Linked DNA regions of Homo sapiens: region 1 is linked to region 2. Evidence: fine-mapped expression QTL. A gene starts in region 2. The other region holds a variant in brackets. All regions are shown on one strand. Distances are from middle to middle.

Region 1 (14,687 bases), 26 kb before region 2:
TTGGCTGAGATCGGAAGGCGGAAGGCCAGAGCCGGGGAAGGGGCCATACTCATGAGTGAGACACGCAGTTTGTCAGGTCTGTAGAGTACCTTGGACTGAAGATGCAGACTCCGCGGAGCCGGCTCACCTGTCTCTAACCCTAGCCTGCCTCTCAGCCCAAGTGTCCCCAGAGTGTAAAAGGAGGGTTGTACCCAGGTGACTTCTTAGGCCTCTTCCAGCTCTGAGGTTGTCTCCAGGCAGGAAGCGAGGAAGATCTCCTTACAGCACAACTTAGAGTAAGGACCTTGTAACCACAGGCATGTGGAATACACTGGCCTCCAACCAGCCGTGTCCACGCGCCTCTTCACCTCCCAAGAGGAGCTTCTGGGTTCCACTGCACTTGGCCAGGAATCCAAGGCAAGGCGCACATGTCAGCAGCCTAGGTGAGCAGGCACAGCTGCATCTAATGAGCTGTTGGATCTGACTCCTCTCTCAGCATGAAGCTAGGTCCCAGGGGCAGGCAGTGTGGTCAGGGGTAGGCCAGCGTGTGTTCCTAGAATGCCACAGAGTCAAGCCCAGTTAGAAGGCATTGTGGCTGAGAGCACAGGTTCTGAAGCCTCAAAGAATCCTGAGTAGTTCCCGATTCTGCCACTTACCAGCTGGATAACTTTAGAATTTCTTTAATCTGTCTAAGCCTCAGTTTTCTCATGTATAAAATGGAGACGATGACATCTACCTCTTAGGTCATTGAGAGGATTAAATGGCATGATATTTGCAGAGCACTTTCACGAAGCCTGGCGTGTCTATCAATGACAGTTGTGGCCATCGTTTGTTGTTCAGCTGCTACAGCCAACAGATGCATGCTCTAACAATGAAAATTACTGTGTAGGCCGGGCACAGTGGCTCACGCCTGTAATCCCAGCACTTTGGGAGGCCAAGGTGGGTGGATCACCTGAGGTCAGGAGTTCAAGACCAGCCTGGCCAATATGGTGAAACCCCATCTCTACTAAAAATACAAAAAATTAGCCAGGTGTTGTGATGCATGCTTGTAATCCCAGCTACTTGGATGGCTGAGGCAGAAGGATTGCTCAAACCCAGGAAGCGGAGGTTGCAGTGAGCCAAGATCATGCCACTGCACTCCAGCTTGGGCAACAAGAGTGAAACTCCATCTCAAAAAAAAAGAAAAAAAGAAAATTACTGTGTAAACCATCCAAGACAGGACTCTTGGCTCTTGTCTTAGTCTGCTCAGGCTGCTATAACAAAATACTATAGACTGAGTGGCTCAAACAACAAACGTTTATTTTTCACAGTTCTGGAGGCTGGGAAGTCCAAGATCAAGGCACTGGCAGATTCGATGTCTGGTGAGGACCCCCTTCCCGGTTCATAGACAGCTGTCTTCTCGACGCATCCTCACATGGTGGAAGGGGCAAGGGAGCTCTCCAATGTCTCTTTTATAAGGACTCTAATCCCATTCATGAGAGTTCTACCTTCATGACTTAATCACCACCCAAAGGCCCCACCTCTACTACCATTACATTGGAGATTAGGTTCAACACATGACTTTTCAGGGACACAAACCTCCAGTCCGTAGCACAGCAGATTTAGTTCCTGCTGAGGGCTTCCTTCCTCGCTTGCTGGCACCTCCTTCTTATTGTGTGCTCACATAGGAGAGAAAGAGAGAGAGAGAGAGAGAGAGAGAGAGAGGGAGAGGGAGGGAGAGGGAGAGGGAGGGGGGGAGGGAGAGGGGGGGGAGAGAGAGAGAGAGAGAGAGAGAGAGAGAGAGAGAGCACTGTAGTTTCTCATCCTCCTCTTATACCTATAAGGACACTAATCCCAGTGCAGGGGCCCTACCCTCAGGACCTCATCTAAATCTATTCACCTCCCAAAGGCCCCACTGCCCAATGCCATCACACTGGGAATTAGGGTGTCCACATAGGGATTTTGAGAGGACACATTCAGTCCATAACAGCTCCTAGATATAAACCCTGAATTTCCTTCTATAAATTTGCCCCCATTCCTTTTGCTTTTGTTTGTTTGTGTTTTGCAGTGATGTGAATGCCAGGAAAATCCTGCCCTCGCCTTGCCCCAGTCCACACAGCCAGAAACAGAGCAGCACCAGCACCCCACTGGAAGACAGGTCTGTGGTCTTCTCCTGTTATGCCTGTGACAGCCCCTGCAGTGGGCGGAGTGGGCCTCCATCTCCAGTCTACTCCCCGAAAAAGCCCCTCGTCCAGTAGCCACACAGACAGAACCCAGGTCTGGCCTCTGCCCTGGTCCCCTGGGAATTCCCTGGAATCTCTCACACAGGCCAACTCAAAGCGGGGAGGTTTTCTCCCACAGTCACCAGGGCCCTGTGTTGGGCAGAGTTGTTTCATATCTTCTTGTGAATAGACGTACCTGGGGGCCAGAAAGGGAAAGAGCCAGCCCAGGGCAGCCCCACCACAGAGCAGAGCAGGGAGCTGACAAGCCTGGCCTGAAGACCCAGCAGCATTTGCTTCCAGGCTTACCAGAGTTGATCAGCACCATGGGCATTTGTATCCTCCGGCTAGAATGGCTGCTCAGCCTCTTTCACCAGCACAGCCTCTGCCCTGCCTGCCTGGACTCTGCTTTAGTGCTTCCGGCTGGCCTGCAGCGGGAAAGCCAACACCCAAACTACCTGCGGGAATGGCCAGCCCCTTGTTACATACCGTCCTTACTGCCTTCTAAGGAAGTGGCTACCACCTCCTGCTGTGCAGAGGCACAGGGGTGAGGATGGACGGAAAGTTGGCAAGGCCAGGCAAGTGTACTGCTCTGAGTTTGCTGAAGGGGAATGCTATATGGAGAAGCTGGATGGAAAAGGGGATGGGGGAGGGCACACACAGCCCTCCCTTTCTAAGGAGATTCCCACACAACACTTCTACTTACAAATCTCATTGGCCAGCACCTGGTCACCCGGCCACACATCGCAGCAAAGGAGTCTGGGAAAGGTAGTTTTTTTAGTTGTGGCAACTTAGCTAAATATGATTCTGTTTTTAAGGAGAGACAGGAGAACAGTAATCTCTGCCTTGAGGTCAACTAGCTAAGCCACGTGGGGAATGAGGGTGCTCTGAGGACACAGCACTGAATGATATGACATCTAAGCTGGGCACAGAAGTTGATGGGCCCCAGGTTAAGGGGTGCTGGTTTGGGTAAATCAGGGATGGGAGGACAAGAGTGGTGGTGGTAAGAGGATAGAGAAGGCAGCGAGAGAAAGCACAGCCGCCATGTGACGGGTGGTGGGGAGGGCAGTCCAGGGAGAGGAAGCATCAGAGCAAAGGCCCTGAGGCTGGAAGTGGCTTGGTAAATGCAAGTCACTGAAAGAAAAGGGGGCAGCTGGAGCCCCTGACCCGGGGTCATATCATACACAGCCTGGTAGGTCATGGGACAGAGTTTAAGTTTTATTCCATGAGTGGTGAAAAGCCACTAAAGGGTCTGTATTAGTCTGTTTTCACACTTCTGATAAAGACATACCTGAGACTGGGTAATTTATAAAGAAAAAGAGATTTAATGGACTCACAGTTCATGTCACTGGGGAGGCCTCACAATCATGGTGAAAGGCACGTCTTACATGGTGGCAGCCAAGACAGAATGAAAGCCAAGTGAGAGGGGAAACCTCGTATGAAAACATCAGATCTCATGAGACTTATTCACTACCACGAGAACAGTATGGAGGAAACCGTCCCCATGATTCAGTTATCTCCCACCTGGTCCCTCCCACAACACGTGGAAATTATGGGAGCTACAGTTCAAGATGAGATTTGGGTGAGGACACAGCCAAACCATATCAGGGTCTATGGCAGGGAATGACTTGACCCAATTTGCATGACAAGAGGCTTAGTGTGGCTGCCACACAGAGAAGGTAGGAGGGAGTGAGAAGCAGGCCAGCCGTGTCATGTAGCTTTCTGAGTGAGATCAGTCACCTAAAATGGAAAAGCATTTTGGAAATATAAGTGGTGAGTCCAGTTGTAAAGTGTAGTAAAATGTGACACGTGGTTGCCTCCAGCATCCCCAAGAGGCCAGTGTCGTCCATCCCTCTCACCGGAGACAGCCAGACGGACTCGGACATCATCGCCTTCATCAAGGCCAGACAGAGCATTCTGCAGAAGCAATGTAAGTGCACCTCCCTCGGTGGCTCCTCCTGGGCAGCAGGTCACCAACACTTGTGGGGAGCACACAGTGAGGTGGGAGGGGAGTAGGGAGTTTCCTGCATATTCCTGAAGCCACAGGACTGGCCTGCCTGTCAGTCACATGTGCCCAGCCTCTGATTCCTTCTCGAGAAAGCCTCAAGGGGCAGCATCAGAAACACCAAGACAGGCCCAAGTGGGTGGGCGGCCCAGGTGCTCCTGTCCCTCTTGGCAGAGCTTGCTCTCTGTCTCTTCCAGATCTTCAGCTCCTTTGTTCTCTGTTCCCAAAGTCAGCTGTCTCCTCTGCTCAGGCTTCTACAAACAGGAAGGGGCTGAGTGATGTTTTGGTAACTCGTTGAACCCCTGGCTTAAAGTCTCACTCCCCTATCAGAGTGTGGTTCTTGCCAAAGAGCTGTGAGTGTAAACACTGCTTGAAGGCCCAGGCCCGAGGACACCATAACAATCACAGAGGAAGTAAGAGTGGCGTGTCAGACAACAGGAAGAGAAGAAGGCTCTTCTTGGTCTGCATCACTGCCCCCTCCACCCCCAGCCCCGTCCTCTTGGCAGCTGCCCATCTCCCATCTGCTGTGGCTGGGCCTTTTCTCTTTCTGCCTTCCATCCCCAACACACCCACAGGGCAAGCCCCAGGGCCCCTTACCCCAGGCCTGCATTTTGTCTTAGCCTCCTCCCCATAACCCAAAGGCTACTAGGCAGGCTTAACATTGCCTTCACATTGCCAGAAAGGCGCCCCCACCGTGATGGTATGGGCTGGCAGATTCGATGTATAATGACTGATGCCTGCCCTGTGGCGCCTGCACTCAGCTTCTCCACCAGCCGTGTGCAGTTTGGGCAGGAAGAGGTTTGTGCATGGATGGAGCGCCGCAACTGAGAGCCGGCCTTGGTCCTGTACTCGCCTTGCTTGGCCGCCAGCCTGCTTATTTACTATCCTCTCTTCACCACCAGGACCAGCAGCCTCAGCAACACTGTCAGGTCCTTTCTTAAGCCTGAGACAGCCCCACCTCTGCTGTGATCTTGTCTCATTCTCAGTTTCCTTGTCTAAAAATAAAAAAAAATAAAAAAAAATAAAAAAAAATAAAAAACTGGATTCAGTGATCTCCAAGTCCCCATCTATGCCCCAAATACTCTGATGATAGGTATCAGGCACTGAACAGCAATGAACAGCCAATCAGTCAGCAAACACTGTATATGTTGGGTGCCTTCTTATGCCAGGCACTACTACTAGTGCTGGTGCTACAGCAGAGAACAAGACAGAACCCAGCACGTGAGAAACTGACATTCTAGGGGGAGGAAGGAGACAGACAATGAACACGTCGACAAATACGTAAGATTGTTTGAGGGGATAATAAGTGCTATGAAATAGCTAAACTATGTAATGTTGTAGACAGTAACTGGGAAGACTGCTTTTAGCTGGGTAGGTTGGGGAGGCCTTGCTGGAGAAGATAACTTTAAACTGACAGCTGCATCATGAGAATGGAGCAGCTACGCCGCGTTCTGGGAATGCACAGTCCTAGCAGACAGAGCGGAAAGCGAGAAGCCTGAAGGGGAAGCTTTGCTTGGCCACAGGGTGGGAAGGAAGCTAGAGTGGCTGGAGGGCAGGGAGCAAGAGCACAAGGGCCAAGTCACACCAGCCTTATGCACAGGGGAAAGAGATTTGGATTTTATTCTGGATAGAGTGGAAGCCCACTGAATAATTTTAACCATGGAGTGATATGATGTGATTGATGCTTTAAAAAGCTCACTTTGTCTGTCACATGTAGTGTAGATTGTAGGGGCCAAGGGTAGACCAGTTACCAGGCTACCATGAAAGTGCCAGCAAGGGATGATTGTGGCTTGGACTCACCAGTAGACCAAATATGAGATGCAAGAGAAAGAGGAGAGTCAGGGCACCTCCTGGGCTTTTGATCTGAGCAGCGAAGAGAATGGCAGTGCCATTTACTGAAATGAGAAAGGCAGGGAGGCATGACCATCAGAGGCAAGGAGCTGGAGGGATGGAGAGTTCTGGCTGCCCTTTTTGAAGTTTCAGATGACATTTGATGTCCAAGAGGAGGTGTCGAGTAGACAGGTGAGCATCAGTGGAGCTCAGAGAGAAAGTCTAAGCTAGAAAAAGAAATATGCAAGTCATCATGTCTGGTTGGTGTCTGAAGCCACAGGACTGAGTACAATGTCCTCTGAAGACCAGAGATGGAGGTATTCAAATTGCTGAGAACAGCCCCCTGGGGTTCTCCAACAGTTGCGGAGAGAGAGGAAGCAGAGATGCTGAGAAGGCACTGCCAGGGTGCGAAAAGGAACAGCAGATAAGTGGGTATGGCCTCAGGCACAAGCTGGAGAAGCACAAGCTGGAGAAGCACAAGCTCCAAGGGGAGACGGGCCAGTAGAGTGTGGCAGGATGGAATGTGGACCACTGGCCATTTTGCATGTCAGGGTGATCATGGACAAGCACCATTTAGCCAGGGGACTGGGAGTGGCTGGGGAGAGGGTGGAAGGGAAAGAGGCTGAGGCAGTGAGCAGATACAACCCCTCCAGGGGGTTGAGCAGTGACAGGAGCAGAGAACTGGGCTGGAGCTAAAGGGAAGCAGGAGCCCAGAGGGATGCTTTAAGACATGCTCACGTGCTGAAACATGCATAGAGAGGGAAACTGATGCTGTGGTGGGAGAGGGGAGCAGAGCTGCAGGAAAAACTTCCTTGAGAAAGTAGAGGGGACAGTGTGTGGGGCACAAGTGGAGGAAGGCTTGGATACGCAGGATATCCTTTGAGCTGAGATATCCCTTCCCCTGTAACAAATCCATAGAAACCAACCATCATTCCTCCCCTCAAGAAGCCTACAAGCAAGCAATATCTTTAAGTTACATTCACTAAGCTTTTGTACATATAAGAGATGTGATCATCTAACTCTCTCCAAACAGAAGAGGCGGAAGTCCAGGTCCCTGTCAGAGTGGTGTCCTCCTGCTAACACTGTCCCCAGGCAGTGCAGAGAGCTGGATTGAAGGGCAGGCACTTTTATTAAAATATGTATGGCAAACTACCATTTATAAATGTTTTCATTTTTATTGTTTCATTTGATGCTCTTAACGCTCCTGTAAGGCATGCAGGGCCAAGATTATGATCCCCTGTGGACAGGTGAGGAAAGGAAACTGAGGCACACAGAGGTTGTATCACTTGCCCAAGGTTACACAGCTGATAAATGGCAGAGCCAGCATAACCCAGGTTTTCTGCTCTCTCCCCACTGGGCCACACTGTCTTGAAAAGCTGCAACTACCAAGATATGCCCACTCTGCTGTCAGGAGTTCTCTCGGCCTCAGGAACAGGAACCAGCATTGACGAGGGGAGTGACCGCAGCCTCTACCCACCCTGCAGCTGGGGAGCTTTGCTCTCCAAATAAACAGCAGCCTGGAAGTAATTCATCAAAGCAAACAAAACT[T/C]CCACAGCTCAATTTTTATTCCGAAAGGAAGAATATTCATTCTGGCTTTTCAGTGACCACGGGGCCACAAAGGAAGCCAAAGACAGGTTGACACGGGGTCCCTCTGCCACCAGGTCCCAAAGGGCCAGCAGGCGTGACCTCTCAGACATACAGCAGATGGTTCTGGTCCCACCATGTGGCACTTAATATGCAGCCCACTTATCAGGGCACCCAGGCAAACACACAGGCCGGGGCCCAGGCACCTTCTCAGCCAAAGCAAACACCTCCCTCTCCCTGCCTGGGCTCTCGAATCTTAATTTAGCTCACAGCGCTGCCTTGGTTACTTCAGGAGTGCTCATTAAGGGGAATTTGTGACTGTCAGCTCAGGAGCAGGAGCCCAGAGAGGGCAATTTAACATAAGCCTCGCCAGCTCTTAGGCTTCACCAAGGGCCAGGATGAATCTATTTGATTTAGGATTCATGGAACAGCATGGAATGTTTAAATCCCTGCCAGGGGCAGGCGTGGACAGGTATATAACACCCGTAAGGGGCATCAGTCATCCGTGGAGTCAACTCTGCTGTTTCCAACTGCCAAGGACAGTTTTTATGTCTGAGGAAATGAGGTTAACCCCTTTCTAGAGGGCCTTTTTGTTTTTAATCTTGCTTAATCCCTGAGTTTGGAAGTATTCCCATCTGGAAAGGAACCATGGTGCGACCCCCATAACCACAAGTCTGTCTTCTCCAAGAGGTGTTAGGAAGAGGTCCTGCCTCTCCCAGCCCTCCAGCCCCACTCAGAGAAACCCTCCAGCTCTCTTCTGTGTTCAGAAACCCTCCCAGGGAAAGAGAAAGAGCCCCGAGCTGGGAGGGAAAAGGCGGAAATTCCAAGGCCATCTCTGCTCTGCGTGACACTGGGCAGGTCACCTCCCCAAGCCTCCCTCTCACTGTCTGTCATGTACAGATTCCACCCTTGCCCAGGCTCTGATCCTTTCCCAGATAATCTCCATTAAAGTCCCTTATCAACTCCCAAGCACCAAGGAATTATTAACAGGGAAGTGGCCTCTGTGGTGAGAGCTGGCCCAACACCATGAGGTGTGATTTTGCTTTTTCTTAATGGTACATCTGTAGTGTGCCCTCCTTTCTGGGAGCCCACGGTAATCAAAACCCCAATACAGACAGAGCTTCATCACTTAACTGGGGCCCATAAAGTGAATGAGTTTGAAATGGTGCCTTTTGTGTTGAGGTCTGTGCATGTAAGGAGCTATGTCTTGGGGCAGAGCGTGCTCTCCCCCCTATTCTGTAGCATTTCTTCCCAGGCCCCACCCCACCCACCCCCTGTCATTACTGCATGCAAGTGTGTGAGGGGCTCAGAGACCATCCTGGGTGGGAGATGGCTCAGACTCCATGCTCCCTACCACCGGCAGCGTTCACAATCCTGGCCCAGGCTGCATTTCAACAGTGCAGCAGAAACATCAGAGCCCAGATCTCATCAGCAGCCACGTGCCCACGGGCCCCCAGCTCTTGCCCTGCCAGTCCTTGTACTAGAGAGACAAAAGCAGTGAGTTTCAGCCATGGCCATGCCTCAGAATCACCTGGACCCACCCCAGTGATCCTGACTGAATGGTTCTGGGCTGTGGTCTGGGCACCAGGATGTCTAGAGATTCTCCAGAGATTTCCGTTGTGTAGCAGAGCTGGGAACCACAAGTCCAGAGTGACAGGAACACATGACCATCATAGGCTCGGTGTACTTGTCTTCTTACTTCCCGTTCTAGAATTCAATTCAGACAGATCAGAATGTCTTAAAAATAAGGACCATATTTGTTTAATTAAACAGCAAGGCCTGCCAGAGGTCTTGCACACAGAATTAGAACTGAAAGACCAAGGGCTCACAGCCGTGAATTATTTCCAATCTCTTCCTCCGCACTAGCTGGCCATTCAATGTATCACCAAGAATTACCCTTTCTTCCACAGCAATATCAAGCCAACCAAGCTAACACTCGTCACCCAGTACCAGGTTCCTGTGGCCGAACCTGGAGGGCTGCAGCTGCCTGCTCACCTGTTCCCTGAGCAGCCTCACCCCTCAGGCTCTCTGTCCACTGAAATTTTTTTAAACATTGTATTTATTACTTCATCCAAGAATCTCAGAAATTCTCTCTTGCTCTTACTAAATTAGCCAAACTTTAAGCAAAATAACTGCATATCACTCTTACCAGTTCTCACATTTTAATGTGCTAATGAATCGACAGGTTTTGTCAAACTGTAGATTCTGATCCAGTAAGTCCAGGGTGGACCATGTCTTAGACTCTGCCTTTCTTAACAAGCTCCCTGGAAATGCCAGCACTGCTGGTCCATGGACCACATTTTGTGAAGCAAGAAGCCACCTTGCTTTTTCCAGGTATCTCATCTGCTCCAGCAAAGAGAAATGTTAGGCCCAGAGAACTGACATGACTTGCCCAAAGTCACACCGTGGGTTGGGGACTGTCCTGGCTAGAACGCAAGGGCCCTGGTTCTCAATCCAGAGAACCCTCTCCATGCCCAGCCATGGGAGATGACAGGATAGGGGCCACATGGTCAGGAGGAGCCATCCTGGAATATAATTAATATCTGGAGGAAAAAGCAAGGAGAGAATCTGAGGATTAGGTAGGAGCATCAATGAAAACCATGGGGTTGTCCAGGTGTGGTAGCTCACACCTGTAATCCCAGCACTTTGGGAGGCTGAGGTGAAGGATCACTTAAGCTCAGGAATTTGAGACCAGCCTGGACAACATGGTGAAACCCCATCTCTAGTAAAAATACAAAAATTAGCCAGACGTGGTGGTGGGTGCCTGTAATTCCAGATACTTGGGAGGCTGAGGCAGGAGAATCACTTGAACCCCGGAGGCAGAGGTTGCAGTGAGCCGAGATTGTGCCACTGCACTCCAGCCTGGGTAACAGAGCAAGACTCCGTCCAGAAAGAAAAGAAAGAAAAAGAAAGAAGGAAGGAAGGAAGGAAGAGGGGAAGGGAGGGGAGGCTGGAGGGAGGGAGGGAAAGAAAAGAAAGAAAAAGAAAGAAAGAAAGAAAGAAAGAAAGAAAGAAAGAAAGAAAGAAAGAAAGAAAGAAAGAAAGAAGGAAGGAAAGAAAGAAAAGAAAGAGAAAGGAAGGAAGGAAGGAGGAAAGAAAGAAAGAAAGAGAAGAAAGAAGAAAGAAAGGAAAGAAGGAAAGAAAGGAAAGAGAAAGAAAGAAAGAAAGAAAAAGGAAGGAAGGAAAAGAAAGGAAGGAAGGGAGGGAGGGAGGGAAGAAAGGAAGGAAAGAAGGGGAGAGAAAGAGAGAAAGAATGAAAGAGAAGAAAGAGAAAGAAAAAGAAAGAAAGAAGAGAAAGGGAAGAAAGGGAAGAAAGGGAAGGAAGGGAAGGAAGGACAGAAGAAAGGAAGGAAGGAAAAGACAAGACTCCAGCCTCGGTGACAGAGCGAGACTCCATCAAAAAAAAGAAAGAAAGAAAAGGAAAGAAAACGGTGGGGTAGGAAAACAGGCGTCAGTCTCAGCCTAGGGAGATGGAGCTTCTGCAAAGGGCAAAGGGGGCCTCTTCCTTCAGAGCTTGGGGTATAAATGCAGCTCCTGGGAGGCAAGACACAGATGCAGTGCCCAAGACCCAGGGGGAGTGGCTGGTGGCCTCCCCTCCCCCCGATTCAATCCTGGGAAAAGTCAGTGTCTGCATGCACAGCCTAACCAAAAGCATCCTGTCTCCCTTTCAGGTTTGGGAAGCAATTGAATTTCCAGGAAATATCCATCCATGAATTATGCCAGCAAGAATGAAGCACAGATGAAGGCAGCGCCCCTCACTTGCTCTGGCTTCAGAAGTGAACTATGGGCTGCTGGGAGCAACTAGTGACTTTGATTCCCATGGAGGGGACTGTGTTTCTTTAAGGATGCTGACCTGGAGGCCACCGAGAGGCTGGGGCTGGGGCTGACCACAACATCCTTCCTGTGGTTGCTGGAGCTGCTGGCAGGGCCAGGCAAGGCCAGAGTGCTAGGGGCAGGGTGAAGGCTTCAGCTCACTGTTGTAGTGACGTTTTGTGTAGATCTTTATAAGCTTTTGAGAATGTGAAATAGCACCATCAAAATATAATGTCAGAGGATGCTCACACCAGTGGAATGTGGGGGGAATATTTTTATTTTTAACGATTTGCCAGCTCTCTCCCTTGGCCCGTGCTCTGGTTTGGAAGCCCAGAAATGGCCATGACAGGTCCAGGCAGGATGTCCCAGCCACAGGCAAGGCAGTGGAATGCAGGGCATCCTGAAGGCCAATCCTGATCTCCCAGACCACATCTTTCACCATCAGCCTCTTGGCCAGGATGACCTGGAGGCAGTGCCTGAACAGCTGTGTCTCCAGGGAGCCATCTGCCCTGCAGGGTCTAAGGACATCATAGCACCCAGAGAACAGTGGGCAGCTCCCAGGGGCTCTGCTGAGAGCTTGAGAGAGGGCAGTGTGGGTACCTTGGGCCTCACAACCTTCACCCAGCCACTTGGGAGGATTTGGGCTGACACTCCCCACTTCCACAGGGAAAAACATAGCTGCCTGGGGGTCTTGTCTCCATGGGCCCTCTCCATGACAGATCCAAGGGAAGGTGGGCAGCCCTCAAGGAGGTTCTTGAAGAACTGCCCCCTGGGCCAGGGGGTTCCAACCCAGCTGCAGCCAGGGAGGGGCAGCGGAGGGTGAGCAGGAGTGGCACCTGGAAATGAAGCTAACTGGATAAAAGTGCTGGTCCACTGCTCCTGGTGTCTCTGTCCTATAAATACAGGACCTGATGACCCTGGAGGGGAGCAGAGTGGTAATATAGTATAATTGGCTTGATTTTCTTTTTCGTTTTTTAGGACTGGGTAACAGGATCATGCAGGAGAAGATTAAACCATTACATTTCTAAGCTAGGCAGGCCCATCGAGCTCCTCTAATCCACACCCCTATTTTATATAATTAGAAGGCCAGAGTGAAGGGGAGATTCAGCTTGCTGTTCTATGCCACTGACAAATGTCCCCTCTTCAGGGGGCTTCCCCTGACCACTCCATCTCGAGTCACCCCCTAGTTATCCCCTATCCCATTACCATTTTTTCTGCATCACTATCTGACATGTTATCCTTCCGAACTTGCCTATTTTTGAAATACCTGCAACCCCCCATAATACTAAGAGCTCCAATGCAACAGGGACCTGTTTGTCTTGCTCATTGCTGTGTCCCAAGCACAGAGTCGCTGTTCAGTAAACGGTCCTTCAGTTCATGAGTAGACGAGCCAGAACCCAGATGTGTTTCTCAGGCTGGTGTCACTCTGACTTCCCCCAGGCTCTGACTGAATCCCATCGGGACAGGGGCCAGCATCTCTGGTCCACTCCTGGCCCTCACAGTTCAATGGAACATAGTAAGCCCTCTGTAAAGTCTGTAGAACCAGAGGAAGACCAAATTCTGATTCTAGAAGCCTCCCCAAGAGTCCATGGAACACACATGTAACTGCACACACACACACACATACACACACACACTCTCAAGAGCCCTGAAGATGGCATGGCATTTGCCCCAGTCCCCTATGTAGCAGCAGCAGTATTCTTGGCATGCCTTAGTGCCCTCAGCCCTCTAGAGCTGGGTAGAGTCTACTAACTTTTATTTTCTTTTATTTTTACTTTCTTTTATTTATTTTTTGAGATGGGGGGGGTCTCTGTCAGCCAGGCTGGGGTGCAGTGGTGCGACCATACCTCACTAGTCAGCCTCCAACTCCTGGGCTCAAGCCATACTCAGCCTCCAACTCCTGGGCTCAAGCGATCCTCTCACCTCAGCCTCCAAAGTAGCTGGAACTACAGGCATGCACCACCACACCTAGCTCGTTTTAAATTTTTTGTAGAGACAGGGTCTCACTGTGTGGCTCAGGATGGTCTCAAATTCCTGGCCTTAAGCGATGCTCCCGCCTTGGCCTCCCAAAGTGCTGGGATTGCAGGCATGAGCCACATACCCTGCCAGAGTCTTTCAACATTAGATCTCCCACTGAGACATCATCTCCTGGATCCAAAGGCCTTACTGACAGAGATGTGTGGCATGGCCCCATGCGGGGTGTGAACCAGCCTCCTGGGGCAATCACTAAGACAGGAAAGGAAATGAAGACAGAAAAACACACAACATGGGATCTGGGGCCACTGGTGTCCAGAGCATATGCAAAGTGTGTGCAGCAACTGGCCAAGGGGCCTTTTGCTCCGAACATCCCCTAATGGAAGCCCAGCCTTTGATATGGACACATGCTTGACAGCAGTGCACCTTCCCAGAGTTCACTGGCCTCTGCAAATGGGAGAAATTGATGCAATGTTTTGAAAAGACTTTCCAGCAATCCACCTGGGATCAGTGGAGCCACGGATGACAAGAAGTATCTGAGTTCACTCTAGGCCAAAATGTGGGATTTTCAAAAACATTTTCTGGAAAGCAGCCTAGCCAGTGACTCCAGCCCAGTCCCTGCTAGAATTCAACTGGCTCTACCAATCCCTTGACAAGAAGTAGGGTGGACGGAGGTTGGAGGAGGGAAGTTAAAATGTAGCTTGCCCAGATCTTGCTAAAAAGGAGTTTTAGAAAGCAGATAGAGAAATTGTGGTATACTGAATACATCATTTTAATTCTTCACCACCAGTATAGAATTACACATCCAAAGCTTTGTCATGGCCCACTTTGACTAATGTGGTGTTGGCAAACCTGATCCAGGCAGAGGCTTGAATTGTGCTCTCATGGTTGAGCTTGCCTCTTGCTCCAGTGATCTCTCTTGGGATGAACATGCCATGGGTAGCTGCTGCCCCTTCAGCCTGGAACATCCAGAGAGCAGACCTGAGCCCAGTCTACAGCCTGGAGCAGAGCCTCCCAGGCAAGCCCAGCCCAGATCAGCTGAACTATGGCTCACCCAAAGACCTATTGGCATGAGAATATATGCTGCTTGTCATAAACCACTGAGGTTTAGAGTGGTTTGTTATATAGCATTAATTGTAGCAATAGCAGACTGGCACAGAAATTGGAACCCAGAGACAGTATATGACTGGATCTAGGATTTCTCAGTGCAGAGTTCATTGTCTCTCCATGCAGCCTGTGGAAAGGCACTGAGAGCATCCTGTATATGGAAAAGCAGGACCACCACCTACAGCCATGATGAAGCA
Region 2 (14,687 bases):
GGTCACCCCCTGCCTGGGTCCTTTCTGGTTTCCTCTTTCCCAGAAACAAGACAAAACCAGGTGTTGTGGAGGGAGGTGAATGCATCTGAAATAGGCACTGGAGCGAGTGACAACATCCCCTGCAAAGGAACAGACCAAGTGCCAAATCACCTTGATAACTGGCATTTACTGAGCATTCACAATGTGCCTAAAACAGTGGGAAGCAGGGTGGTCATGACCAGCTTAATCCAATCATGATCCACTCATCACCTGACACTGAGCGTGTTACAGGTGTTTTCTCATAATTACCTATTACAATCCCTATCTCCACTTTGTAGATGGGAACTGAGGTAGAATATGTTGACCAAGGCTGCACAGCTACTGGTAGAGACAGCATTCACTCCCAGGCCTCTGGCTCTGGAGCCCCGGGTCTTCACCACACAAATTAGCATAAGTGCTGGGGGCAGGATGCAACCTGAAGCAGCAGTTCTCAAAGTGTAGTCCCGGGACCAGAATCAGCATCACCTGGGAGCCTGTTAGAACTGGAGATGTCAAGCCCCACTCCGCACCTGCCGACTCAGGAACTCTAGGGATGGGTCCTGCAGGCTGTGTGTCAACAGGCTCTCCAGGTGATGTTGAGGACCCTGAAGACTGAGAACAGCTGGCCTAGAAGATGATGCGTGGGCTGGGTGGTCACAGACAACATTCTGTAGCTGTGAGAGACCAGGAAGTGAGGCCTCCAGCTTCAGGTTTTACTCTCTTCTCCCTGATGGATAAGGTTAGTCAAAGTTGGGGGACCATAGTACCACATCAGGGTTGAGAACAGTTCAGGGGCCTCCCAAAACCCTGGGAGTAAGGCAGAGGCCCTGGAGAAGCTGAAATCTCCTCCCTCAGCTCTGCATTGGAGGTGAGAGCCAAGCTGGAGGGCGTGGGAAGGGTTGGTAGCTGCAACCTAACTCGCTCTGCTAACCAAGACGAAAGGAGGCCATCCGCTTGATTGCAGCCCCGAAGGGATTGCCACTGATTAGCCCCTGGGGCCTCCCCAGGGAAGACAGGACATCCCTTTCCCTGAGAGTCCTCAGCCTCAGGAGAGACCCTTCCTTGCCAGGGGCAGTTGAGCTGGGTGGCAGAAGAACACTGGGGTGAGATTCTGGAAGAAGACACATTCCTGTTGAACTCTCAGACGCACAGGGCGAGTTGAGTAACTAGTATTAAAAGCAGTATTAAACATTGCCTCTGTGACGAAACACTGCTTGCCCAGGTTCACAAAACTGGGAAGTCAGAACCCATGGCCACCTGCATCCGCCCACCGGCACTCAGCACCCTCAGCAGGATGAGGGCTGCAGGCTGGCAGTGGGGGATGGCCCAGGACTAGAGTACTGCCCCCAGAAGTGAGGGTCTCCAGAGAACGAGCATGTTCGGGAATGTTGGGCCCTGGCCACTTTGTGGATGTGGGAAAGAAAGGGAGGCCAAAGTCCACATCTTAAGAGGCCAGTTCCCGTCAAAGTGAGGAGAAGCAGACAGCCTGTGACCGCAGATGCCCTGACTGGCTTGGCCCACCAGGGCCACCCCAGCCCTGATCTAAGCACACCCACCCAGCCAGCGGGAACTGGTTCCCATAGGAATTGGAAGCCAGAACTGTTGTGTCCCTGGCTTCCTCCTGCCTTTGGGGCTCTTCGGTGGCAAGGCTGTGCTGCTGCTCTGAGACAGTCCACAATTAAAGAGGAGAGGGTTGGGGCAGGGGAGGAGAGAGCCCTGCCTATTCTCCAAGGCGGCTGGGCCCAGGGACTGGAGGTTGTCAGCAGTGGGGCAGCGAAGGGAGGTGTTGTAGGCTTGAGCCGGCAAAGGTTCGGGTCTTGTGAAAACACATGCAACACACATACAAACATGCACACATGTGCAACATACAGTTGCCATGCACAACACGTGCATACAACACATCACATATAAACAACCACCACACACACACACACACACACACACACACTCACACGTGCCACCTTTGTCTTGGCCTCTGTTAGAATTTCTCCCATAGGCAAGGGCTGAGGCTCACTAGAGAGCAGCAAAGAGCAAGGGTGCCCACTCGCCTGGACACTTAGGGAACACAGGGCTCTCTTTCCCACCATTAGCTTCATAGCAGGCAGCCCATGGCTTCCCTGTGGTCCCTAAACCCTGTGTTCCCCAGCAATCCCTTCCAGACATACCCAACCTGAAATCCTCCCATTGTTCTAACAGCTGATGTGGGTGCCATCCTTTTGGCCACCAGCAGCATCTCCCACGGGACCCCTCCCTGAGCATCCTCCACCTCACCCCTCAGGCCCATCTCCCGCCCCAGCCCATGCTTGCAGCCCACACCTCAGTCAGCCCTGGCCAGTGGAACAGACAGTGGAACAGACACTGGAGTTGGAGTCCAGTCACCTTGCACAGGTCACTTAGCCACTCTGAGTCTTCATTTCCTTTTTCCATGAAATGGGAACAATATCATCTAAGAGTATCATTAGATGAGATGACACAAAAGCATGCTGCCAAAAGCATGGCAACAACTGGTGCCCAGTAACCATCAGCTCCTTCTTCCTCCCCTGCCATGCCACCCCCTACAGGTCATCATGGAAGCCTGGGTGAAAGGTGTGAACCCCAAAGGCAACTCTACCAACCCCAGCAACTGGGACTTTGGCAGCAGTTTCTTCTTTGCAGGCACAGTCGTCACTACCATAGGTAAAGGGCTGGGGTAGAGAAGAGCTTCCCCAAGGCCCCTGTCTTAGTTTGGGCTCCCCAAAAGCAGATGCTGAGACAAGGATGTGGTTTGTCTAGGAGATTATTCAGGAAGCCCAGGGAGGGAGTGGGTAAGTGAAACAGTAGGGAGAAGGTGGCAATGAAATTTGCATTAATTAGCAGATTACTGGCTTGGGTGACTGAGCTCACTTCTCCTTGGGACCCTCTGAGAGGCTAGATAGAGCCCTTCCTCAGAACGGTCCAGCGAGGGACAAGAATGAGGGGCCATTTAGCTACCAACTCCTGCCCTCAAAGGTTGAGAGCTGGTCCCGAGTATATTAGTTCCCCAGCATTTTGAAACTTCCCATAGACCAAGCATACTCCTTTGGCCAGAAGAATCTCTCAGGTAGAGAGAGATGTGCAGAAACTGGGAGCGGGGGTTGATTTGTATACAGGAACTGTCCACCAAAGCTTCAGGTGGTATCTCATGTGTTCTGAGGGAACAGGGCACTGACAGCAGCTGCTACACCCCCTCGGCCAGAAAACTCACTCCATCCCACCCCAAGGAAACCATCAGATCCAGGTCTACCCCATCCATTCAGTTAAGTCCAATTCCACATACTTTCCTTGAACTCAGGTGACATTCCAGGCAGAGTGATGGAGTTGGGGGTGAGAGATACAAACTTGGATCAGACCCAGGCTCAGCCTGCAAGGAACTTCCAGTCCAACAAAGAGGAACATGATAAATACACAAAAAAAAGTAATAGAAAACAAAGTCGATAATTACATAGCAATGACATAAAACACTATGGGGAACCACACCCAGAAGGGAGAAGGAAATCGGCAGTCAGGAGGGCTTCATGGAGGCAGAGTCATTTGAGATGGGCCTTCAAAGATGAGCAGGAGTCCTATAAATAAAAATCATTCCAGCAGAGTTCATGGGAACAGGGGAGCTTCCCCTTCTCACCCCCAGAGGTGGTGACAGACAAACCTCAGCTAGAGTCTGGGGAAGAGGAGCAGAGGGCGTTCTAGAGTCTCCATATTTGCACACGCCCCCCTTCCCTTGCAGGATATGGGAACCTGGCACCCAGCACAGAGGCAGGTCAGGTCTTCTGTGTCTTCTATGCCCTGTTGGGCATCCCGCTTAACGTGATCTTCCTCAACCACCTGGGCACAGGGCTGCGTGCCCATCTGGCCGCCATTGAAAGATGGGAGGACCGTCCCAGGCGCTCCCAGGTATGCCCCCTAACTCCCTTACAGGCCTGCTGTGACAGATCTGTTGCAAGTGGAGTTCCCCAGAAGCCGATGCTGAGATGGAGTTTGGCATGCATGGTGTTAGGGGTAGATGCCTGTGAAAGAGGAAGGGTGAAGGCAGGGTTGGGCAGAGTGGGGAGTTGGATCTCTATGCATGCTCTACAAAGGCTTGGCCCCAAGGAGCTCTACAGCATGTGAGAGCTGTCAGAGTTGTCCCACAGTGGGCGGAACCAGCCAGGTTTTCATACCTGCCTCAATCAGGCACTGGGTGTGGCCTTCCCAGGAAGGGTATGCCCCTAGGCCAGGAGGTTCTCTGCAGCTGAACACCCTGAAGGAGCTGGCAGCTGGCCCACCGTCCTCCTTTAAGTGAGGGATCTCTGTAGCACATCTTCAAGGTCATCACAGAACTCCAACATCCTTTTGTGCAGTAGCAAACAAGCTCTGCAGGCTGCCCAGCATGCCCTCAGTGCCCACCCTTGGCCAGCCACTTGCAAGGCCAGAAATACGCAGACAGTTCAATGATACTTTTCTGTTCCAGATCTGAGTCCCCAGGGAGCCTGTTCAAGTGTGATCCCCAAGTCCAAAGGGGTCTCCAAATCGCTTCTTGACCCACTAACGCAATCCCTCTGCCGAAATCTTTCCCTGGGTGGGACAAGGTCATGCACACATAGATACAACCTCCACCTCGAGGGTCTGCAGTGCAGGAAAGGGTCCTAGCTATGGCCCAGTCCCATTCCCATGTTTACCCCAGACTCCCCCCAACCTCATACAATCCTGGAGACTTTCAAGTGGACTCAGAGGCCAACTCCCTCCCTCCTAGGTACTGCAAGTCCTGGGCCTGGCTCTGTTCCTGACCCTGGGGACGCTGGTCATTCTCATCTTCCCACCCATGGTCTTCAGCCATGTGGAGGGCTGGAGCTTCAGCGAGGGCTTCTACTTTGCTTTCATCACTCTCAGCACCATTGGCTTTGGGGACTATGTTGTTGGTGAGAACAAAACAGTCACATTATCTCAGGGTGGGGGTGCCCACTGGGATTTGGGGGATGGAGAGATGTCAGCTGAGGACAACTATTGAGGATAAGATAGCCCTTGGTCATTCAAGGGAGCCAAACCAATGATTTCTGGGACTACTGTGGATTCTAAGCAACATTCTCAGAAGTTTCTGGTCTAGGACCCATCACCACCCTGCAGAGACCTACCTCAACTGCTGTTCCTTGTTATGAGGAAGAGGGAGAGAGCATCCTGGCTGGTGAGGGTCCCTATGGAAACTGGAGGTGGCTATGCCCTGAGACCCCTGGCATTGATGCCATTCCCTTCCCTGGCAGGCACAGACCCCAGCAAGCATTATATCTCAGTGTATCGGAGCCTGGCAGCCATCTGGATCCTCCTGGGCCTGGCGTGGCTGGCGCTGATCCTCCCACTGGGCCCCCTGCTTCTGCACAGATGCTGCCAGCTCTGGCTGCTCAGTAGGGGCCTCGGCGTCAAGGATGGGGCAGCCTCTGACCCCAGTGGGCTCCCCAGGCCTCAGAAGATCCCCATCTCTGCATGAGGCCCCCGGGGGGGGCCCAGAAACCCCTTTCATCCTCCCCAGTCCCACCCTATCTGCTCTCTGGATTTCCAGCCCTGCTTTCTCCTCTCCCAACCCCCTCACTTCTCAGCCAGGGCTGGTCTCAGGAGCTCTCCCAAGAGAGAAAGGAGACAGGTATATCCAAGAAAGTAACAGAGAGGAGACGTGAGATAGGATTAAAGACATGTGTGGATGGGGAGGTGTACCCTTGTCCCAGAGCCCCTGCCACAGCCTTCCACCCAAAGGTAGTGGCCAGATCTCCACTGCCCTCCCCATGCCCCCTTCCAGGAGACCTTACACAAACAAAGGATGACTTTACTTTTGCCTCATTTGATATGTGCACAGTGCATTTGCCAAGCCCCTACTATGTGCCAGGTGCTGTGCCAGGGTCTGTGCCAGGGTCTGGGGATACAGCAGTGGAAGTGCCTGCCCTTGATGTGCCTTTAGTTGCTAGGCAAGCAAAGAGGCAGCCCCAACACAGTGCCCAAAATGCTATGATGGGAATAGCCCCAGGGTTGATGAGAGCCCATGGGAATGGCTGGCAGGGAGCATCAAAGAGAGGGGAGACCTGGGCAGAGACTTTGGAACAATCTTAGTGAAAAGAGGATCTCTGCCCTCAGGAAGCTCTCAGCCGAGGGGCAGGCGAGCTGCCTCTCAAAGCTCGCCAGCTCCCCTTGCCTAGAAGTCCAGGGCTGTCTGTGAACAAAGCTTAGGACCTCTTGGGTGTCCTACCCACTTTCCTGAACATGGCCTCCCCTGACCCTCACAGGCCACCCCCTTAACTTCATCACTCCCTCTGGGCTCCTGCCTTCTCAAGAGCCTTTCCAAACACCCCATGGGAAGCCAGAGAGCCAGCAGATCCCAGGATCCTTCCAGAAAGTGAGCTCCATGAACGTCTGGCCTCTCTCAGGAATGCATTCTCCAGGTCTGGCCTTTCCCCTGCCAGACTGCAACATCCCTGACCAGGAGAGATTTAGACCACTCCATCCCGGGGCCTGGAAATTTTGGCCTTTGCCTCTCCCATCATCCAACAGCAAGTGGGCTCCTATGTGGCTGGGTTCCTCTGCACAGGTCTGAGGCAAGGCTGTGGAGCCAAGGCGGCTCCAGGCAGGAGACCCAGGAGAGGCTCTACAGCAGCAAGAGGAGTCCAAGTCACACCCCAGGACTTCCCCATATCCAAGAAAGGACTGGGAAGCTGAGGACCCACGGACTCTTCACACAGCCTAGACGCTTCCTCCACTCCAGGTAGAGGGATTTCGGGGGCCTTCTCAGAAGCAAGGAGTGGACAAGCCTCTTGGTTAAGGCTCCTCTTACCTCCCAAGCTCATGGACAAGTGGCAATCAGCTGGGGTCCCTCTTTTGGGGTACAAAGGAAAGGACAGAGGTGTGGGAGACCCAAGGTGGTCTTGAGATTGACAGACAGCAAGTCCTTGGAGATAGCCCCCGAGTCCAAGAACTTAGGCAGGGGCCCCAAGACAATAAAGTTGGTCTCTACTATCTCCTACCTCTGAGTGCGGTTTCCAGAAGTCCCTCCCATTGTTCATTTCAGGAAATGTGAGGGGGCTCTGGGCCCCTTCCCTCAGCGCCTGCGGTCACCCAGCAGCTTCCTCCTTCTCCCTGGCCTAGGCCTAGCAGGTGGGCACCCCGCACACATTTGAGGCGGGGCCAGATGCCCACAGTTCAGAGCCTCTTTTTGTCCCGGGGATTGGATCCCAGGGCTGGGTGGGGCCAGGCTGTCCCATTCCCCAACACTCCTCCTCCCCGGCGAAACCGGGCACCAGCAGGCGTTTGCGAGAGGAGATACGAGCTGGACGCCTGGCCCTTCCCTCCCACCGGGTCCTAGTCCACCGCTCCCGGCGCCGGCTCCCCGCCTCTCCCGCTATGTACCGACCGCGAGCCCGGGCGGCTCCCGAGGGCAGGGTCCGGGGCTGCGCGGTGCCCAGCACCGTGCTCCTGCTGCTCGCCTACCTGGCTTACCTGGCGCTGGGCACCGGCGTGTTCTGGACGCTGGAGGGCCGCGCGGCGCAGGACTCCAGCCGCAGCTTCCAGCGCGACAAGTGGGAGCTGTTGCAGAACTTCACGTGTCTGGACCGCCCGGCGCTGGACTCGCTGATCCGGGTCAGGGGCGAGCGGCGTCGGCCTGGGCGCGGCGGGATGGGGTAGCGGGCCGCGGGGTGTACGGGCCGAGGGCGAGGGGGCCTATTCAGGCCCTGGTCAGGTGTTTCCTGTTCAGGGAAACGTCGGGAACGCAGACGCGGGCACAACGGGGGTGGGCGTTCCTGCGCGGGGACCAGAGGGTTGGGGGACCTCGGAGGAAAAGACCCTCGCCCTAGCGAGAGGACTGCGAGAAGCCGGGCTGAGTCCTACTTGGGGGCGAGAGGGCATGCTGGCCCGGTGAGGAGGCAGATGCCTGGGGACACATCCAAATTTGGGGGCGAGGACGACTACGGCAGGGGGCGCGCGCGTAACCGGCCCCGCCCGGCCTGACCCGGGAAAGGGCGCGTTTGAGCCTGCTTGGGGGTTGGTCGCACCCGCACCCGTGGCAAAGAGCTAAACGCCACACCTGGCCGCTTCCAGAGGGGGAACCCGGGCGCACGTTTGCGAACTGGGAGCTGGGACGGCAGGGGCGCCGGGTCTAAGGATGCGCAGGAGCGAGGGCGCGGCCGTAGGAGCCTGGGGGAAGGCGCGTTTGTCCCGGAGGGTGGGTGGATTGGGCCCGAGGCGTGCTGGTCGGGGCCACCCTCAACGCAGAGAGGGGGCTCGACGTGCGCAGACCCGGGTTCGAGAGGAGGGCGGACGCAGGGCCGCTCTCTGGCTGAACCCGCTTTACTCCGAGTCTTCGGACACAAGGACTGGGCGCGCCGCCGCCGCGCGGCTGCCCAGAAAGGCTGAAGGCAGGGTTCAGGGGAGGACTCAGAGGTAAATCTGAGCAGAGGCTCCTCAAGGGTGGGGCCTAGCAGGGCGGAGGAGGCCGGGGAGGGTTCTAGGGGTGGCGCATCTTAGGACTGAAGCGACGCCAGACTGGCAGCTGCTCGATTTGGCGGAGGCATTGATGTCCTGGGTCCTGGCTTGGTTCCCCACCCCTTCGTCCAAGAGCCCAGAGTCCAGACAGCTGCGCGCCAGCCCAGAATCCCCGTCTTGCAGTCCTGGTGGCTTATCCGTCCAGAGTCTCCAGTCCAAAGCCAATCCCCGGAAGGTGGCAGGGAACCGTGCCAGGGTGGGAAGGGACCCAGCGCGGAGCGGAAGTGGTGTTCTGAACCCTCGGACTAGGCCGATTCGGTGAGGTCAGGAGGTAGCCAGGGCCAGGCCTATCTCTACTAAGGACCTAAAGTGATTCCTCCAGCTCCCCACCTGCGGACTTCTGCAAATACAGCCCGACTGCTGGGTCCTGGTGCTGAGGCTGCCTGCCATTACCCTTGCAAAGGTGGTGAACTTCGACTACAAGCAGCCTGGGCCCAGGGAGATGGCTATGATGGTGATTATAATAACAGTAAATGCCTCTGTGCAGCACTTATCGTGTGCCAAGCACTGTTGCTGGTACTTTACCCGTATTCATTTGTCTCACCTCCCTCACAGGTGGGTACTGTTTTTATCATCCTGTTTCACCCTCACAGGTGGGTACTGTTTTTATCATCCTGTTTCAGAGGTGAAGAAACAGGCTCAGAGAGGTTACATACGAATGCATGGCTACATAGCCAGGAGCTGGAGCTGTTAACCAGCATAAATACTGCCTCAGTGTGGACCTGTGGATGTGGGTGCTTCCCAAGATTCCCAGCCAGGCTGTCATCTCTTTGGGCTTTCCCTTCAACTCCCTCCACCCCCACCTCACCCCCTTCCTCAACACTCCTGTGGCTTCAGCCAACTCCAGGAATAAGGATGTGGTATCCAGCCCAGATCTTTCTGAGCACCAGATGTGGACATGCAACTTCTGAAATTCCTCAAGGCCAAGAGCAAGTGGTCCTCCTCCTCCCAGCCCTGCTTCTCCACCTGTCCTAAATCTCGATTGTCTGCCCCATGTCCACACACCCTCACAATCCTCTGCAACATCTCCTTTACTGCCCATACTAAATAGGGCCAGAGGCCTGGGCTTCTGAATATCTCCTCTCTGTTCCTCCTGGACCACCTGTGCCAGGAGACAGGCCAGGGCCCGTCTATCACTCACTTCTGCAGGAGTCTCTCCCCTCTGGTCAACCCTTTCTATACTGCCAGCTGCCACAGAGCACACAAACCTGATCCTACTTCCCCTTTGCTCAGTGACCTTGGCTGATACCTGCGACTTCATCCCTGGCATGGCAAAGCCAAGCACAGCTTGGCCTCAATCACTTCTTACCAGTCTCCCTAATCTAGGTCCCAGGCAGTCTCACCTCCCACCTTCTGCACTGCTGTCCCATCTACCTAAACATCCTTCCACCAGAAGCAATCCTACCTGACCCTCAAAGGCCCAGCTAAAACATCCCATTCTCCATGAGGCCTCTGCTCCTACCCAAATGAGAATGAACATCCTTCTTCCCCAGAGTCCTACAACATTATATGCCTATATAATGCATATAGGCAATATAGCAACTGCTAACACCATGTGCCAGGTACTAAGTCTACACATAATACCTTATTTAACACAACAACTCTATGAAGTAGGTACTATTTGTATTACCATTATACAGGTAAGGAAACTGAGGCACAGAGAGAAGTTGAGCACCTTGCCCAGGATTGTGTAGCTGCACTTCCTCCTTAATGCCCAAAGTGACATTGACTGCATCATATTAGAGTTAATTAGGTTTATCTATGTACCACTGAGGGCTGGGGTCATGTCTCTTGTGGTCACGTCCCCTAAAAGCACCACACATCACGCCTGGCCTAGTGTTTGTTGCAGGAATGGGAGTGAGCAGGGGAGAAAATGAGTCGCTGGTTTACTAGGACTCCAACCTGACCTAGCCACTGGGTAAAGGGTGGGGAAGGAGCTGTCCCCATGGTAGCTGTCAGTAGCTGTACCTGGTGAGCCCTTGGTGAGAGGGGTAGAGCCTCCTTGCCCTGGTGGGCTGGGATCGAAGAGTAATTGTGAGGGCTGTGTGTGTAGGTTTGTTTGTGTGTGTGTGTGTGTGTGTGTGTGTGTGTGTGTGTGTGTGTGTGTGCATCTTGGGGTACAGGAAATCCATCACCCCACAGAGCCTGGTGGTCATTGCAGCCTCTTCCCCAGGATGTCGTCCAAGCATACAAAAACGGAGCCAGCCTCCTCAGCAACACCACCAGCATGGGGCGCTGGGAGCTCGTGGGCTCCTTCTTCTTTTCTGTGTCCACCATCACCACCATTGGTAAGGGCCAGATGGGGCCAGGGGGATGGGGGTGGGGGAAGGAGGCAGCTCCCTGAGAGGCAACAGGCTAGTTGCCTTTTGGAGGGATTACCTGGAGTCTCATGACTCCAAGTGCAGTTCAGCTCTGCAGCATGGACACCGCCTGGGAGCAGTCTCGGGCCTCACTACAGACCTGCTGACTCAGCCTCAGCATCTCACCCAGGTCCCCAGGGGATTCATGTGCACTGTTCGAGTTTGACAAGCACTGCTCTAGGGGACTTCTGCCCCACATGGCCTTTCAGGAAGCAGAGGTCTCCCAGTACAGCAAGAAACATGTCTCTGGGCACTACAAGGATGCCAGTCTCCTCAGCTGAGCCCACCCAACACTGAGCCCCGGGAGTGGTGGTCGGGAGAAGTGGAGGGAAAGTTAGGAAGGAAGAAGAAGTAGAAATCCAAAGAAAGAGCTTTAGACCCCCCGTTTCTCAGCCCTGGGGGAGGTGGCCATTCCTCCCATGTCCTTGTCTCCAGACCCCATTCCCACAGTCCTCTCTTCAGCTTGCAAACAGCCCCCTCCACTCCTCATCGCCATCCTCCCCACACACAGGGACACCTGGACTAACCCTCCTCTGCGGAAGAGCTGAGGTAGAGCTTGTCTCAGGAGGGTGCTGAGGGGCTGCTGTGCAAAGAAGAGCAGGCTAGATCCCTGCAGTTCTGAAACCCAGGAAATCATGCAAGTCGAGCCACCCAGATCCTTCTGCCCCAACTCCTGCATGACACAGGACTTGCCACCAGGTGGCAGGCTGGTATCACTGGTGACTTGGGCTACCGCCTCCCAGTTCCTGGCCAGCCAGGATCCTCTCTCCAGGACACCAGTATCCCAGCCTCCCCACAGGGTTGGGTAAGGCAAGAGCACCCAGAGGATTCTCCATCTAGTTTTAAATTGGCCAGAACTTCTTGAAAGCAGACCTCAGAGCTACATGGGAGCTTGGGCAATCCTTGAGACAAGCATGCTTGGGAGGCATCTCAGACTCCAGCGGCCCTGAGCCCCTGAAGGACTGGCAGGATGGGCCGATTCATCTTTACATCCCCAAGGGTCTATTACAAGGCCCAGCATACAGCAGCCACTCAATAAATACTGCCACGTTAAGGAATTCCATTAAATATGCATTCACCAGGCATGTATTGAGTTCCAGGGTAGCAGGAGATCTTAAAACACAGTCACTGTAGGCCAGGCCTCCCAGATTTGGGGGTCCTTTAGTCTGCAAACCCCACACCTCCCACACTCTTCTCAGGGCCTGTGACTTTGGCCCACCAAATTCAGAGTTTTGCTACCTCTCTTCCCAGCTCTACCACCCCTAGCTTGGATTATGCCTCTGTCCTTTCCTCTCCACTCAGTTTCAACCAGCTTGAGGGTGAGGAGGGCAAAGAGAGGAGGGCCCTGCCCCACCCCACACACACAGTACACCTGAGGAAACACCCGAGGTCTTCTTGTACTAGGCACTGTGCTGGGCACTTTGACATTTAAGATTTCAATTTGTCCCTATGGCAACCTCCAAGAATAGGTCTTATTATTTTCTTTCTTTCTTTTTTGAGACGGAGTCTCGCTGTGTCACCCAGGCTGGAGTGCAGTGGCATGATCTCAGCTCACTGAAACCTCCGCCTCCCAGGTTCAAGCGATTCTCCTACCTCAGCCTCCCAAGTAGCTGGGACTACAGGCACTTGCCAACATGCCCGGCTAATTTTTGTATTTCAGTAGAGACAGGTTTTACCATGTTGGCCAGGCTGGCCTCAAACTCCTGTCCTCAAGTGATCCACCCGCCTTGGCCTCCCAAAGTGCTGGGATTACAGGTGTGAGCCACTGTGTCCAGCCTATTTTCATGACACAGATGGGGACACGGTGGCACAGAGATGTTGCACCATCTCCCCCAGATCATACGGCTAGTGAGAAGCAGAGTTGACTAGCCATTGTGGAGTGAACAGGAGGGGAGTGAGGGTTCTGTGATGCTGACCACACCTGTATGCACTTACACATGGGAGGTATTTGGAGAGAGAAGGAGAGGGAGATGGAAGATGAGGTACATCTGGAATGCCACAAGGGAAGAAGGGATATTCTGAGAGGCTCAGCAGAGGGCAGCCTCTTCGGCAAACCCATTACCCTGGGACCAGCACCCTGCAAGGGCAGTACTTTCCAAGCCCTAACACAAATACCTCTGGGCCAGTAGGACAGGCCTGAGCCCAGAAATCACTCATCTATGAACTCCATTCCTGGCTTGCTCATTGGTTCTTTCATTCATCCATCCATTTGTTCAACAAATAAATTGAAGGCTGGGCATGGTGGCTCTTGCCTATAATCCCAGCATTTTGGGAGGCCGAGGCAGGTGGATCACATGAGGCCAGGAGTTGGAGACCAGCCGGGCCAACATGATGAAACCCCATCTCTTCTAAAAATATGAAAATTAGCCAGACGTGGTGGCGGGTGCCTGTAATCCCAGCTATTTGGGAGGCAGAAGCACGAGAATCGCTTGAGCCTGGGAGGCGGAGGTTGCAGTGAGCCGAGATTGTGCCACTGCACTTCAGCCTAGGCAATAGAGCAAGACTCTGCCTCAAAAGATAAGTACATACATACACACATACATACCTTGGTGTGTGTATGTACACATACATATGTACCTAGTGTGGGCCAGACACTGGTGCTGAGGATACAATGGTAATCAAAATTAGCAAGTCCCAGCCCTTGGGGAGCTGACATTCTAGTGTGAGGGGACACACACTAAACAGATACATGGACAATAATCAGGTAGTGGGGTGTGCTTAGAGAAAAGTAAAGCTAGTTAAAGGGGTCTCATAGTGATGGGGGCACCTATTGTAGGTGGGGTGTCCATTCAGTAACATTGAAGCTGATACAGTAACATTGAAGCAGAGACATGAGTAAAATAATGGAGCAAACTGATGATATCTGAGGAGAGAATCCTCTGCCAGCAAGTGCAAAGGCCCTGAGATGGGAATGTGACTTGTGTGTTTGGGGAGCAGTAAGGAGGTCCAGGTAGGTGGAGAGGGTTGGAAACAGGAGCTGCATTCAGAGAAAGTACAGAGAAGACCAATCACAGATAGACTTGTAGGGTTCTTGCAGGATGCCCAGAGATCCCAACAAGATGCAAAGTGGCAGTGAGGAGACATGCTGAAGTGAAAGGTGGCTTGGGTGGGGCTGTGGCTACCCAGCGTTCAACAGGTAGGTGACATCCTTTTGCTGACCTGAGGGATGGCTGAGAATAGTGGGGAGGAAAAAAACCCATTTAATGTCAGCCTGAGAACGCTGCAGGCCTCCATGGGGCTCCTCTCAGAGCTGGAATCTTAGTGTCCCCATCCCGCTGGTGAAAACTGAATGGGGAAGAAAAACCAGTACCAGATGATGGAACTTGGCAGGACCTACAGCTGGAGGAGGAGGGGTTGGTGAGGAGGCAGGCAGAGAGGTGGGTGGAAAGTAAGAGGTTTACCTCGCCCTAGATGCCTACAGAAAGGAGAACTCTCCTTTGGAAGAGGAAACCCATAAAGGCCAGAGGGGGAGGTAGATGGGGACTCAAGAGGCTTCTGAAGTCCTCAGACCAGAAGCCAGTTCACTGGAGTTCTATCATTCATTTATTCAACAAACATTTAGCACCTTGTATATACCAGATGCTTGCAAGCTCACATTCCCTTCTACAGTGTACCTCCATTCCTCATTTCATCATTACCCCCCACTGTAGGTGGATGTCAGCATCCCCATTTTACAGGAGGAAGCAGCATTCAGAAAGGTCAAGCCAAAAGAAAGAGAGAGAGAGGAAGGACAGAAGGAAGGAAGGAAGGAAGCAAGCAAGCTGGGCACGGTGGCTCACACCTGTAATCCCAGCA

What was found. PIP is the estimated chance that this variant, and not a neighbour inherited with it, causes the effect. A credible set is the group of variants that fine-mapping cannot tell apart.
Region 1: its variant is the best candidate, but not a certain one, in a credible set for the expression of KCNK17 in transverse colon (GTEx, PIP 0.53).

The regions. Positions count from the first base shown.
Region 1 is chr6:39,333,129-39,347,815 of GRCh38, reverse strand. KIF6 (kinesin family member 6) reads left to right here. Exons shown (of 23, transcript NM_145027.6): 20 at 1,290-1,340; 21 at 2,027-2,116; 22 at 4,001-4,107; 23 at 11,268-14,687. The coding sequence ends at 11,284. LOC105375047 (a long non-coding RNA gene) reads right to left here. Exons shown (of 3, transcript XR_926774.3): 2 at 9,138-9,303; 3 at 5,115-5,177. Among named protein-coding and RNA genes, the nearest start is that of KCNK16, 18 kb to the right of the region's middle. RefSeq lists enhancers at 2,476-2,977, 3,652-4,489, 4,472-4,521, 7,796-8,297, 11,574-11,653. The variant T/C (reference allele first, on the strand shown) is at 7,561.
Region 2 is chr6:39,307,026-39,321,712 of GRCh38, reverse strand. KCNK17 (potassium two pore domain channel subfamily K member 17) reads left to right here and starts at 7,294. Exons shown (of 5, transcript NM_031460.4): 1 at 7,294-7,629; 2 at 10,706-10,820. The coding sequence starts at 7,393. It overlaps KCNK16 (potassium two pore domain channel subfamily K member 16), which reads left to right. Exons shown (of 5, transcript NM_001135106.2): 2 at 2,580-2,694; 3 at 3,761-3,927; 4 at 4,766-4,931; 5 at 5,271-5,542. The coding sequence ends at 5,494. LOC105375047 (a long non-coding RNA gene) reads right to left here and starts at 7,757. Exons shown (of 3, transcript XR_926774.3): 1 at 7,489-7,757.